Linked DNA regions of Homo sapiens. The main gene of each other region encodes a partner of the protein of the gene in region 2 in a complex. Each region holds a gene or a part of one and is shown on either strand. Other genes may lie near its edges. The genes, in order: RPA2 and SMARCAL1.

Region 1 (7,274 bases), on a different chromosome or scaffold from region 2:
TCCTTTCTCCAACTAATGAACGCCACAGATAGCAATTGTAGAAGGAGATTCTGTTCTTTCTTTACCATTCTGTTAATTTCATGTTAAGGTTAAAAAAAAAAAAAAGAAAAGTTATTTCCTTTTGAAGAGAGTAAGAAATAACTTCCCATTAAACAGGGAGACTTAAGTATTTTAACTATCCAAAAGCCATGACATGAATCTAGAAACTGCTTCATGCAAAAACACTTTAACTGTTATTTTATTCTGACTTTACCTGAAAAGATCTCAGGTGGCCTGCCACTTTCACATATGTTTCTGGAGGAACCACAGTGTTTTCACTGCTGGTGTCCTAACATAAAATACAAACATGTCATTAAAGTTTTAGTGATGCTGGTAAAAGCCTCTTTAACGTTTCTATATTATGTATAGAAAGAGAAAGTTACGAAGTAGAAGAGTTAAAGGATCCTAAAATGGCATTAAGTAGTTTGCCCTGCCTTTTACAACTTATTTTGTAAAACCAGGAATTAGAATAAAAATATCTCTAAAGGTAATTATCAGTTCCAAAGTTCTGTAGCACATCATAAAAAAGCAAACAATTGTGACACTCTCGTTCAAGCTCTTAGGCACACAATTTTCTTTTTTCTTTTTTTGAGAGGGAGTCTCGCTCTGTCACCCAGGCTGGAGTGCAGTGGCACGATCTTGGCTCGCTGCAACCTCCGCCTCCCAAGGGAGGGTTTGAGTAATTCTCCTGCCTCAACTTCCCCAGTAGCTGGGATTACAGGCGCCCGCCACCACGCCCGGCAGGCACACAATTTTCTGGTGGATATACTTATTGGCAAAGCAATTCTACTTTTAGGAATTTAAGGAAGTAATTAAGAACATGCATTAAGATTTAGATTTATCATAGTATAGAATATTAAAAATTTTAAAACAACCTAAATATCCAACATAAAGTACACATTTCTATATAATAGGATACTCCACACTGTTGCAAATGATAACATAGAATTCTATTTACTGCCTGGAAAAACAAGTCATGATACATGGAAAAAAGCTGATTTCCCATTTGGGACAATACACACTAAACTGTTTATAATGGTTGACTAAGATAATTAAAAACGATTTTAATACTTATCAGTTTCCTAGAATATGCACACATTATTTATAAGAAAAATACATTAGCTGATTTTTTTTTTTTTTTTTGAGACGAAGTGTCTTGCTCTGTCACCCAGACTGGAGTGGAGCGGCATGATCTCGGCTCATTGCAACCTCTGCCTCACAAGTTTAAGTGATTCTCCTGCCTCAGCCTCCCAAATAGCTGGGACTATAGGCGCCTGCCACCACACCTGGTTAATTTTTTTGTATTTTTTTTGTATCTTTAGTAGAGACGGGGTTTCCCCATGTTGGCCAGGATGGTCTCGATCTCCTGACCTCATGATCCACCCGTCGCGGCCTCCCAAAGTGCTGGGATTACAGGCTTGAGCCATCGTGTCCGGCCCATTAGCTGATTTTTAAAGTTCTTTTCTGACTACATAAAATGTATTACTTTAAAAAAAATTGAAAATATATCGGGGTATATGGACTCACACCTGTTATCCTAGCACTTTAGGAGGACAAGGCAGGAGGATCCTTCGAGCTCAGGAGTTTGAAACCAGCCTGGGCAACATAGTGAGACCTCGTCTCTAAAAACAAACAAAAAACTAGAAAATATATGCTTAAAAATAAAAACTCTGGCCAGGTGCAGTGACTCATGCCTGTAATCCTAGCATTTTGGGAGGCCAAGGCGAGCAAGTCACTTGAGGTTAGGAGTTCGAGACCAGCCTGGCCAACGTGGTGAAACCCTGCCTCTGTTAATAATACAAAAAAAAGGGTGGGCACAGTGGCTCACGCCTGTAATCCCAGCTCTTTGGGAGGCTGAGGCGGGCGGATCACGAGGTCAGGAGTTCGAGACCAGCCTGGCTAACAGGGAAACCCTGTCTCTACTAAAAATGCAAAGATTAGCCAGGTGTGGTGGTGGGTGCCTGTAGTCCCAGCTACTCGGGAGGCTGAGGCAGGAGAATCACTTGAACCCAGGAGGCAGAGGTTGCAGTGAGAGACTGTGCCACTGCACTCCAGGCTGGGCAACAGAGCAGGACTCTATCTCAAAAAAAAAAAGAAAAAAAAAAAAAAAAAACCACACAAACAAAACAATTGTATTCCCATATACAACATTTTGAATCCACTTGAGAAAAGATCTCTACCTCAACTCCTTTTATCAAAATATATTCCATGTAGATCATAGGTTTAATTATAATAAAAGAAACCATAGAAATAATATGAACAATTTTTTTCTTTTTTTTTGAGACAGAGTCTCGCTCTGTCGCCCAGGCTGGAGTGCAGTGGTGGGATCTCAGCTCACTGCAAGCTCCGCCTTATGGGTTCACACCATTCTCCTGCCTCAGCCTCCCTAGTAGCTGGGACTACAGGCGCCCGCCACCACGCCCGGCTAATTTTTTGTATTTTTAGTAGAGACAAGGTTTCACCCTGTTAACCAGGATGGTCTCGATCTCCTGACCTCGTGATCCGCCCGCCTCGGCCTCCCAAAGTGCTGGGATTACAGGCGTGAGCCACGGTGCCCGGCTTTTGTATTTTTAATAGACAGGGTTTTGCCACATTGACCAGGCTAGTCTTGAACTCCTGACTTCAGGTGATCCACCCGCCTCCGCCTCCCAAAGTGTTGGGATTACAGGCGTCAGCCACCGAACCCAGCTGAGATTTATTTATTTGGTTTTTTGATAAGGTCTCGTTTTATCATCCAGGACGGATTACAATGGTGGGATCTCGGCTCACTGCAGCCTGTGCCTCCCGGGTTCAAGTGATTCTCCTGCCTCAGCCTCCTGAGTAGCTGGGATTACAGGCATGCACCACTGTGCCCGGCTAGTTTTTGCATTTTTAGTAGAGACGGGGTTTTACCTTATTGGCCAGGCTGGTGTCAAACTCCTGGCCTCAAGTGATCCACCTGCCTCAGTCTCCCAAAGTGCTGAGATTACACGCATGAGCCACCGCACCTGGCCAACAGCTCTTTTTTAATCTGAAGTATATATTGGGTGGCTGCTTAAGATTTTTTTTTTTTTTTTGAGATAAGGTCTCGCTCTGTCACCCAGGCTGGAGTGCAATGGCACAATCTGGGCTCACTGCTACCTCCACCTTCAGTGGGGCAAGTAACAGCAGATGTGGTGGAAATAGCAGGAGAACTGGAATTAGAAATGGAGCTTAAAGATATAACTGAATTGCTGTAACTTTATGGTAAAACTTGAGTGGATGAGGAGTTGCTTCCTTTTTTTTGAGACTGAGCCTCACTCTGTTACCCAGGCTGGAGGGCAGTGGCACAATTTTGGCTCACTGCAACCTCCATCTCTCAGGTTCAAGTGATTCTCCTGCCTCACCCTCCCGAGTAGCCAGGATTACAGGCATGTACCACCATGCCCAGCTAAATTTTTTATTTTTAGTAGAGACGAGGTTTCACCATGCTGGCCAGGGTGGTCTCAAACTCCTGACCTCAAATGATCTATCTGGCCGCCTGGGCCTCTCAAAGGAGTTGCTTCTCATGGATGAGCAAATAAACTGGTTTCTTGAGATGGAATCTCCTCCTAGTGAAGATGCTGTGAACATTGTTAAAACGACAATAAAGGATTTAGACTACTCCATAAGTTTAGTTGAGAAAGCAGTAGCAGGGTTTGAGATTGAATCCAATTTTGAAAGAAGTTATACTGTAAGTAAAATGCTATCAAACAGCATGATATAATATCGAGAAATTTTATGTGAAAAGGAGACTCAGTTACTCAGGCAAACTTTGTTGTCTTATTTCAAGAAATTGCCACAGCCAGCTCAACCTTCAGCCAACTACCACCCTCCTCAGTCAGCAGCCATCAACAGTGAGGCAAGAATGTCCACTAGCAAAAACATTATGAATTGCTGAGGGTTCGGATAACTGATTATTACAATTTGTTAGCCATAAAGTTTTTTTTTTTCTTCTTTTTTTGAGAGACAGTTTCGCTCCTGTTGCCCAGGCTGGAGTGCAATGGCGCGATCTCAGCTCACTGCAACCTCCACCTCCTGGGTTCAAGCGATTCTCCTGCCTCAGCCTCCCAAGTAGCTGGCATTACAGGTGCCCACAACCACACCTGGCTAATTTTTGTATTTTTAGTAGACAGGGCTTCACCACATTGGCCAGGCTGGTCTTGAACTCCTGACCTCAGGTGACCCTCCCGCCTCGGCCTCCCAAAGTGCTGGGATTATAGACGTGAGCCACCGCGCCCAGCCACCATAAAGTATTTTTTAACTAAAACAAACAAACAAAAAAAACAAACTTTGGGACTAGTAGAAGCTTCCGAAAGGTAAACTAGAAAAAACTGCACAATTTATTTTTCAAAATTATTTCTTTTTGAGATAGGGTCTTCCCATGCTGCCCAGGCTGGTCTTGAAATTCTGGCCTCAAGTGATCTTCCTGCCTAAGTCTCCTGAAGTGCTAAAGTTACAGGTGTGAGCCACTGTGCCTGGCCTCATTATAAGAGGTCACTATAATCATTTTCAAGTTCTTGCAAACAAAAACACTGTTAGGGGAAGGGGAATCAAAGAGAAAATTTACAAAAACCCCACAAATTGACATTAAACATAGTAAAAAAAAAAATACATATATATGGCTAAAACCAAAGAAATACACATAAAAAAATGACAAAATTTTCACTGAAAAGACTATTTTTTTCTGAGATGGAATATTGCTCTGATGCCCAGGCTAGAGGGCAGTGACGCAATCTTGACTCACTGCAACCTCCATCTCCCAGGCTCAAGCAATTCTCCTGCCTCAGCCTCCCGAATAGCTGGGACTACAGGCACGTGCTACCATGCCCTGCTAATTTTTTAATTTTTTTTATTATTTTTACGTATACTTTTTTTTTTTTTTGAGACAGTCTTGCTCTGTTGCCCAGGCTGGAGTGCACTGGTGTGAAGATCTCCGCTTACTGTAACCTCTGCCTCCTGGGTTCAAGCGAGTCTTGTGCCTCAGCCTCCCGAGTAGCTGGGACTACAGGCGTGCACCACCATGCCAGACTAATTTTTTTATTTTTAGTAGAGACTGGGTTATACCATGTTGGCCAGGCTGGTCTCAAACTCCTGACCTCAGGTGATCCACTCATCTTGGCCTCCCCAAAGTCCTGGGATTACAGGCATGAGCCACCGCACCTAGTCAAAAAGACTATTTTTTAAAACAACTATCACACTGGCAAAAATTTAAGACAAAAACCCATTGTTATAAAGGGTATGGAGGATAGGCACAGAGGCTCACACCTGTAATCCCAGCACTTTGGGAGGCTGAGGTGGGAGGATTGCTTAAACCCAGGAGTTTGAGACCAGCCTATTTCTTAAAAAAAAAAATGTTAAGGGTATGGAAACTAACTGGGCACTCTCATGCATGACTGAAGCGTAAACTGGTACCTTTAGAGAAGACAGTACAAAAATGCAAAAACTAAGATGTTAAAAAAATGTCAAATGTGTATTTCCCCCCAGAAAACCTACTTTTAGGAATACATCTTATGATTATTTTATTTTTTTGAGATGGAGTTTTGCTCTTGTTGCCCAGGCTGAATGCAATGGCACGATCTTGGCTCACTGCAGTCTCTGCCTCCCAGCTTCAACTGATTCTCCTGACTCAGCCTCCCGAGTAGCTGGTATTATAGGTGTGTGCCACCACGCCCAGCTAATTTTGTATTTTTAGTAGAGATGGGGTTTCACCATGTTGGCGGTGCCGGTCTTGAACTCCTGACATCAGGTGATCCACCTGCCTTGGCCTCCCAAAGTGCTGGAATTACAGGCGTGAGCCACGACGCCTGGCCTTACGATTATTTTATAATCATGAAGAAATGTATGCAAAGATACTCACTGGAGCATTGTATATAATAGCAAACGACTGAAAAGAAGTTAAATGTTGTTCCCTGACTGGGTCCACTGTTAAGTAAGGGATGATGTATTCTTATAATGGAATCGGTGGTCATTTAAAATGATAGATGTAAATCTTTACAGATAACATTAAAAAATCAGTTCTTGGCTGGGCCATGGTGGCTCAAGCCTGTAATCCCAGCACTTTGGGAGGCTGAGGCAGGATCACCTGAGGTCAAAAGTTCGAGACCAGCCTGGCCAACATGTTGAAACCCCGTCTCTACTAAAAATACAAAAATCAGTTGGGTGTGGTGGTGCACGCCTATAGTCCCAACTACTCGAGAGGCTGAGGCAGGAGAATCGCTTGAACCCGAGAAGCAGAGGTTGCAGCGAGCCAAGATTGCACCAATGCACTCCAGCCCGGATAACACGAGTGAAGCTCAGTCTCAAAAAAAAAAAAAAAAATCAGCTCCTCACCAGGCACGGTGGCATCAGCCTATAGTTCCAGCTACTTGGGAGGTTAAGGCCAAAGGATCACTTGAGCCCAGGTTTGAGGCCAGCCTAGGCAGCAAGCCAAGACCCTGTCTCTATTTAAAAAAAAAAAAAAAAAAAAAAAAGGCCAATGGCTCATGCCTATAATCCCAGCACTTTGGGAGGCCAAGGCAGGTGGATCACCTGAGGTTGGGAGTTCGAGACCACCCTGACCAATACAGAGAAACCCTGTCTCTAATAAAAATACAAAATTAACCAGGTGTGGTGGCACATGCCTGTAATCCCAGCTACTCTGGAGGCTGAGGCAGGAGAATTGCTTGAACCTGGGAGGCGGAGGTTGTGGTGAGCTGGAGATCGCGCCATTGCACTCCAGCCTGGGCAACAAGAGCACAGCTCCATCTCAAAAAAAAAAAAAAAAATCAGTTCCACAACATAATTTTGAGTGAAAAGAGCAAATTACTTAGCAGTTGCATAGCATATTATCCCTTCTACAGTAAAAGAGGTATGTGGACACCTGTATGTACATATATGCAGAGACAGATGTCTGAAAGGGTATTTTCCAAAATGTGTCGTAATAGTAGTTCTTTAAGAGACATGAGATGTCAGGTGATTTTTTAAATGGTTTATAAGCAAGCATAGTGCATTTTATATGAACAAGTAGTATTAGGTATCCATAGTATCTACCTCCCTGCTTGATGGCAGGGACTGTGTCTACCTCATTCTTTTTATACCTGGAACCAAGCACAGTCTAGTTCAGAATTGGTACTCCAACAATAACTGCTGAATGAATTATCCTTTATTTTTCTGAGAAGGAAAAAATTTAAAAATTACATAACTACCAAGTTATTTCTCTATAGATAACTTGTGGTTTTTGAAGGAGAACCGCATTT
Region 2 (7,274 bases):
CAGGAAAAGATGTGAACAACAGCTAAGGCAAAGGAACCAATCACGGTTTTTGGACACCTGGGTGTGAGCAGGATCAGTATCCATACCTTCATGGTACCCACTCCCAGAATGCAGACCATGTCAGGAGTGTGATCTCACAGGCTGGTGATAGACACATATCACTGTATTTGCCTTTTTTATTTTTGAGATTGTCACCCAGGCTGGAGTGCAGTGGTGCGATCTAGGCTCACTGCAACCTCTGCATCCCAGGCTCAAGGGATTCTCCTGCCTCAGCCTCCTGAGTAGTTGGGATTACAGGATGGCACCACCACGCCTGGCTAGTTTTTGTATTTTTAGTAGACAGGGTTTCACCATGTTGGCCAGGCTGGTCTCGAACTCCTGTGACCTCAGGTGATCCACCCACCTTGGCCTCCCAAACTGCTGGGATTACAGGCCACAACACCCGGCCCGTAGTTGCCTTTTAAGGGCCACCCCAAGCTGAAGCCAAACACCTGAGGGGGCAGGAAAGGCAAAGGATCTAGACTGTCGTGGAGCAGCTCATCTCACGACCTGCCTGGGCCTCGCACAACTCCCCTGTGCCCTGCTCACCCGTCTGCCCTCATCAGTCCAAACTGCATCCATCTAAGGATGATGACGTAGCAACCAGCATCAGCCTCCTCCGGAACCCAAACCCTGATGAAAGCTCTTGTTAAGCAAGCAATTCTAGAGGCTTCTTCCAGGACAATGCTTGAATGTGAGGTCTCAAAGGCATGAGGTTTTAAGTATTTGAGTTCTACTTGATTAAGAACAAGATTAAACCAATTCAAGAATGGGGAAACACTGATCCATAAAAACTACATCGTTTTTAAAAAACAATGTGGCCCAAGCTGAGAATGACACCCAGGAGTCCAGAATCTATAGCTGCTTCTCCCCTATTCTGAAGGGGGAGCTTATGAAGAACCTCATGAAAAACTAAAGCAAAACGGCCAGGCACGGTGGCTCATGCCTGTAATTAATCCCAGCATTTTGGGAGGCCAAGGTGGGCGAAGAAGTTCGAGACAAGCCTGGCCAACATGATGAAACCTTACTTCTACTAAAAATACAAAAATTAGCCCAGTGTGGTGGCAGGTGCCTGTAGTCCCTGCTACTCGGGAGGCTGAGGCAGGAAAATCACTTGAACCCGGGAGGCAGAGGTTGCGGTGAGCCAAGATTGCGCCACTGCACTCCAGCCTGGGCAACAGAGTGAAACTTCATCTCAAAAATAAATAAAATAAAATACAGCAAAACTATTCTGTTGTGGCCAGTAGATTTCAAGACTGGCTTATAATTAGGCTTATCGGAAGATTAAAAAAACCAAAACAAACAAAAAACACCCCGACAATGTCCAAGCCCCACCTCCGACAAAATAAACATCTCTGGGTAAGAACCAGGCATCGGTGCTTTTGAAGTGGCCCTGTGATGCTGATGGGCAGGCCGAGAGCAGAACCACCAGCATTTTCAAACTGTGGCACCATCACCAGCAGCAGCACCAGCTCAGGGAACTTGTGAGAAACGCAAAAGTTTGGCTCCATGCTCAAGTTCCAGAATCAGAAACTCCAGTAGTGGGGCCCAGCTAGCTGCGTTTTAACAACCCCTGCAGGCAGTTCCCTGCAGGCTCAAGTTTGAAAACTACTAAGTTTGCATATGGAAAAGCATTTATTTTTATGGCAACCACCTGTTTTTCTGCTCTGCAAAGGCCAAAATAAAAACAGATGGGTTTTAAATGGCTGAAGCAGGAATTTACCTGCTTCTACCAAGAAGATATTGACCAGGGGGATATTATGAGGTCTTCTCTTTGGGAGGCCTTATGACAAAACAGCCACCACTGTATGTTTACTATCTGGAACAATTAACGTGTCATCTTTCTATAGGAAGAGGAGCAGAACAGGAAGTCTTTCCCAAGAAAGTAATTTTTGAATATTCGAGGTAGAGAAAAACACCCTATGTTGAGATCACAGACCACTACACATTCTGGGAATCAGACAAAGACCAATTACTTGCCATATCTTCTGGAATCCATCTGTTTAAAAAGCGCAATAAGGTCCTGTGAATAACTGATGTCTGCCTCGAAGTAGGCCCTGGAGATGAGCATGCATCGCCCTTTGACAAATGAAAGGGATGGAGCTGATGGAAGGCCGGCCTGTCCCTCACTGCTGGTGGAGGGTGACTCGCTGCTGCCATAGGCCCATTCCAGAGGCTGCAGGTTGACCGTGGGGAGGCTCTGGGCTGCTTTCACTGCCAAAGAAGAAGAATCGAACAGAAGTGATAAAGCAGGGGACTATGATGTGGCTTTGAAATACAGGCAAGGGAAGAGGGAGAAAGTGGGGAAGGGACATGGTCAAGAGGCACTAGGTTTGGCAGGAAGGCAAGAAAAGGCACTGTTAGATTAGGAAGACTTGAAAGTGTTTTTTAGTTGGGGCTTTGGGAATTTCAATATTTGCTGAATGTAACTTTCCATCTCCGTAAGTTTTTCTTTTTTTTTTTTCTTTTTTTTTTTTTTTTTTTGAGACGGGGTCTTGCTCTGTCACCTAGGCTGGAGTGCAGTGCCGTGATCATGGCTCACTGCAGCCTCAACCTCCCTGGCTCAAGTTATCCTCCACCTCAGACTCCCCAGTAGCTGGGACTACAGGCGTGCACCACCACATGCGGTTAGTTTTCGTATTTTTTGTAGAGTCAGGGTTTCGCTATGTTGCCCAGGCTGGTATCAAATCCCTAAGCTCAAACCATCTACGCACCTTAGCCTCCCGAAGTGCTGGTATTACAGGCATCAGGCACCATACCTGGCCTCCCTACATTTTTCACATCAAAACATTTAAAATTCAGAAATTAACAAGGGGAAGAGGAAGCTCGCCAGGATGAATAAACTTATTAGATAATTTCTGGCACGGTGTCGGAGAAGCCACTGAAGTCAGCACACCACAAATCACCCAGTTAAGCCCACTCCTAGGTCGCTACTCTGTCTACTGCTCAGAGAACAAAGGAGTGAGGACCAGGATCACCAGGTCACAAACACACAGTTCTGAACATTATTTCATCTACTACAGATGCATTTTATAATGAACAAATTCAGCTGTGTAACACTAAGCTGTCAACAGACACACACTGGAGTGAAAGGAAAAAAACCCTGAGTAAAGAAATATAAAAAGAACCCATGCTTTAAAAAAGTACTAAGACCACAAAAGAAGAGGGTAGTGTAGCCAATTCAAAACAGGAGGAAAAAGACTAAGAAACATTTGAAGAAATGTTCACCTTCACAAATAATCAGAAAAATAAGATACTTTTTTACTTCTCAAACTTGCAGGATGAGAAACAATTAGATATCCATATTGCTAGTTGGGAATAAAACCTGCTGGAAAACAATTTGGCAATTATAGCAAGAGCTCTAAGAATAATGATTCAACTTCTGGGAATCTATCCCAACTACCAGTTGAAAATACAGACAAAAACTTAGGTACGAAGGTGTTCCTCTACAGCTTTAAAACTGGAAAAACTGGCAGCCAATTAAAATCAAGCAGGAAAAAATAAACAACAACAATTTAAGCAATGTATGACACATTCATAAGACAGAATGTTATACAGCTATCAAAATTTATTTTGTATTAAAAATTCTGGAAAAGACAAAAGTAGTTCAACAACACGAAACCATTTCTTGAAGGTCAAAATGGCCCATTATGATAATGGACACATTTTCATCACTTAGAATTAACTGTTAACATTCAGTAAAGTAAATATGCTTTATGCTGGAGTATTAAATTAAAAGGGCAAAATACAAATTATATGCATATATAAAACTTTATATTTTAACGCATAGAAAAAAGGCTGGAGGGAATGAAACCAAAATGTTAATAATGGTTAGTTGAGTGGGGAGATTACGGGGGATGGTTTTTCTTCTTCACACGTCAAAATATGTTCTACAGTGAGTATGTGGTAGGGTTAATGAAGCCAAATCCAGAGATATACCTAAAGCAAAATGACAGAAAGACTGACACAGAGACAATTTTATATGTTATACCAATAAAAAGCCAATCATGAGACACAATCATGAACCTATCTGAAACTTAGAAATACAAGGAGAAATTCACAAATCCATAATTATGGCAAGGAATTTCAAGGTTTATCTCAGCAGGCAAAAGCTCAAGTGTGTAACACATTGGTAAAGATGCAGAGGAGCCAAACAATTAGAAAAATTCATCTGAAAGCTATATGGAGAATTTTTTTTCTCTTCTATGAGCTTCATTGAGAAGTATATATGGAGAATTTTGTATCCAATAAACATGGTTTTCAAAACATGTGGAGCATTACACAAAGCAATGATAGTCGGGCACAGTGTCTCACATCTATAATCCCAACAGTTTTAGAGGCTGAGGCAGGTAGATCACCTGAGGTCAGGGGTTCAAGACCAGCCTGGCCAACATGGAGGAAGCCCCATCTCTACTAAAAATATAAAAATTAGCCAGGCATGGTACACGCCTGAAATCCCAGCTACTCAGGAGGCTGAGGCAGGAGAATCACTTGAACCCGGAAGCCAGAGGTTGCAGGGAGCCAAGATCGCACCACTGCACTCCAGCCTGGGCGACAGAGTGAGACTCTGTCTCAAAAAAAAAGTAACGATATCACACAAAAAACCTAAATGAATCTGCAAAAGCAGAAGTCATCTAAGTCACCATGCACCGTGGTCAGAACAAGAGTAAAAAGACAAAACAACCGCAACAGGGGAAACCACTGGTTTAAGATCACCAGCAATGAGAATACCAGGTGTCAAAATCTGCAATCTTTATCCAGAGCCTTGGGTCTCCCCGTTCCAACACCAAATAAATCGATTAAAAAATGAGCCCTCACTAGACGGAGCTAGCAGCAGCAGCGTTATGGGTTGAATTGTGTCCCTCCAAAATTCATGTTAAACACACAGCCCAGGACCTCAGAATGTGATTGTATATGGAGATAGGGCCTTTAAAGAGGTTAATAAGTTAAATGAGGTCACCAAGGTGGGCGATAATCCAATGACTGGTGTTCTTCTAAGAAAAGGGAGAGACCCTAGGGATTTGCACACACAAAGGAAAATCCAAACAAGGACACAGAGAGAAGACAGCCACCTGCAGGGCATGGAGAGAGGCCTCTGAAGAAACCAACCCTACCAATCTCAGGCTTCCAGCCTCCAGGACTGTAAAAAATAAATTTGTATTGTTTAAGCCACCCAGTCAGTGGTACTTTGTCACGGCAGCCCTCGCAAACTAACAACACTAGCAGCTACCAAAGAAAGATATCGCCTAATGTACACATTTCAAGAATTGGAGGCCAAGGAGAAAACCAGGAAATTCTGCAGGGAGCTGTCCCATCACTGGCCCAAACCACCTTTCCCAGAAACTGTACTGGTGCCTCCAGATAATCCTACCTCATACCCCAAATCTGCAAAGTGACCTAAGCATACATCCTTATCTTTTCCTTTCTTAAGCTAGGGGGAGGAAGAGACGGTGTAGAAATGGCAGCTGGGGGAGAAGAGTAAAATAAATGGAAGATGAAAACACACAGGGCTGACGCTTTGACACAGGTGTGCAAGCTCCATGTACCAGGATCAAGTGACAAAAACTTTAGTGTATGACAGTTTTCTCAGAAGACAGAGGGACGTAACCAGGTGCTGACTATGACCAGACACTGCATTAGCTGGAACTTGCCTGGCCAATGCCCCCTCCTTGCATTTTTGAGTAGTTAGCTGCACAGAGAGTACTCTGAGGATCTGTGCTGTTTGCTGAACTGTTACCTTCCTGGGAGCAGGGGCTGGCAGGCTGCCTGAGCTGCCTGTCACTGCTGGGGCCAGCATAGTCTGGTGGGAACGTGTAGTCTGAAGTCAGACTGTCAGGGTTTGAATCCCAGTTGTACAACTTATTGGCTATGTGACCCTGTGTTACTGACTCATCGTCCCTGGGCCTCAGTTTCCCCATCTGTAAAAAAGTCATTATAAGGAATAAAAGTTAGCATAAGGGGCTTAGAATAGCCTAATGCAAAGCAAGCATCATTTAATGCTAGCTTTTGTTAATACTACTAACGGCCTTCACCCACAGAGCTGCCTCATTAGGCTAGACAGAGTGGGAAGGAGTGTTGGGGGGGGTGCCCTGAAAGCTTTCACCACCTGTAAAGCCATGCACTCCATAAGCTGGACTACATGTGATACTCTAAAGATTTTCAGCACCAGTGCCACCCTCCATGAGACAACCATGTGTCTACTTACTCAGGGCACTATAGTCATTCATGCTGAAGTTCCACGTCTTGGTGTCAGGATCTGAAACAAAACAGAGGACTGATGACTGTTGACAATTTGTACTTAGGCACTCAACACAAGCTTGTCTTCTAAATGAATGAATGAAGGACGCCAAGTTCAAAACAGCTGACCAGCAAGCCCCCACTGATCTATAAAAATCTCTGTAGAGGACAAATAGTAAATATAGATAATTCTTTTATTCCATGTAGTGGAATCCAACTCAGGCCCTGGGAAGTTATGAACTTCACCTAAGAGGACTGAGGGCAGAGTTAGGACTAGAATCCAAGTTCTCCAGGTCGTAGTGTGGTCAGGCAAAGCAGTATGAGGAGTAATGGCTCTGGCCTGTAATTGAGCTAGTCACATCCTGACGCTGCCTTTCCAGACCAATGAAACTGGGCCTGTCACTTAATCTTGCTGGGCCAGTTCCATCACCTTAAAAACTAAAATAACATCTACTTATTTCAAAAAAACTGCTGTTCAGCTTAAGTGCTACAATGCATATAAAGCACCTGGCAGAGGAAGCGTCTTCTCAGTAACATTCAACTGTTCTCCAGATGGCCACGTGACAACCATCAAGTTTGGCAGCTGTTTAAGGGAATGACTATTATGAAGGGAAACAAGCTAAAATTGAAAAATTTTTAACAACTGGATGGACAGCATGTGCCAATGCACTCTCTTAATATTTATGAGAAACTGTTAGATTAAAAGAGACTCCAAAAATAAGAAAAAAAAAAAAAAACAGCTGAAAAATGAAGACATTACCATAATTCTTGCTGGGCAGGGTCTTAAACACTGCAATGAGTTCCGCATTGTACCCAATCAACACCTGGAAACGATCGCCGTTCCTTACGCACTTTCCCTTCTGAGAGTTCACTCCTTTTTGGACTGAGGACCCTGACTTCTGCTGGAGTCTTCCTTCTGTCCTGGGCGTTACACTCTCTGAGCTAGAATGGATGTAAGAAATGTTCTGCCCCGAAGGGGAGGCTTTTGCTGTCTTGGC

The links.
Region 1: the proteins of SMARCAL1 (region 2) and RPA2 are in contact, whole or in part, in a crystal structure (PDB 4MQV), measured with the Homo sapiens proteins. Residues at the interface, in NP_001120679.1 of Homo sapiens: Leu5, Gln9, Lys12, Ile13, Asn16, Arg17, Ala20, Leu21, Arg23, Arg24, Lys27; in NP_002937.1 of Homo sapiens: Pro222, Glu223, Ser250, Asn251, Glu252, Gly253, His254, Ile255, Tyr256, Ser257, Thr258, Val259, Asp260, Ser266, Thr267.

Annotation. Positions count from the first base shown.
Region 1 is NC_000001.11:27,897,380-27,904,653, forward strand, and holds part of RPA2 (replication protein A 32 kDa subunit), read right to left. Parts: intron 329-7,274; coding exon 254-328; intron 1-253. UniProt on the Homo sapiens protein: As part of the heterotrimeric replication protein A complex (RPA/RP-A), binds and stabilizes single-stranded DNA intermediates that form during DNA replication or upon DNA stress.
Region 2 is NC_000002.12:216,415,278-216,422,551, reverse strand, and holds part of SMARCAL1 (SWI/SNF-related matrix-associated actin-dependent regulator of chromatin subfamily A-like protein 1), read right to left. Parts: coding exon 7,037-7,274; intron 6,296-7,036; coding exon 6,245-6,295; intron 2,254-6,244; coding exon 2,020-2,253; intron 1-2,019. UniProt on the Homo sapiens protein: ATP-dependent annealing helicase that binds selectively to fork DNA relative to ssDNA or dsDNA and catalyzes the rewinding of the stably unwound DNA. Rewinds single-stranded DNA bubbles that are stably bound by replication protein A (RPA).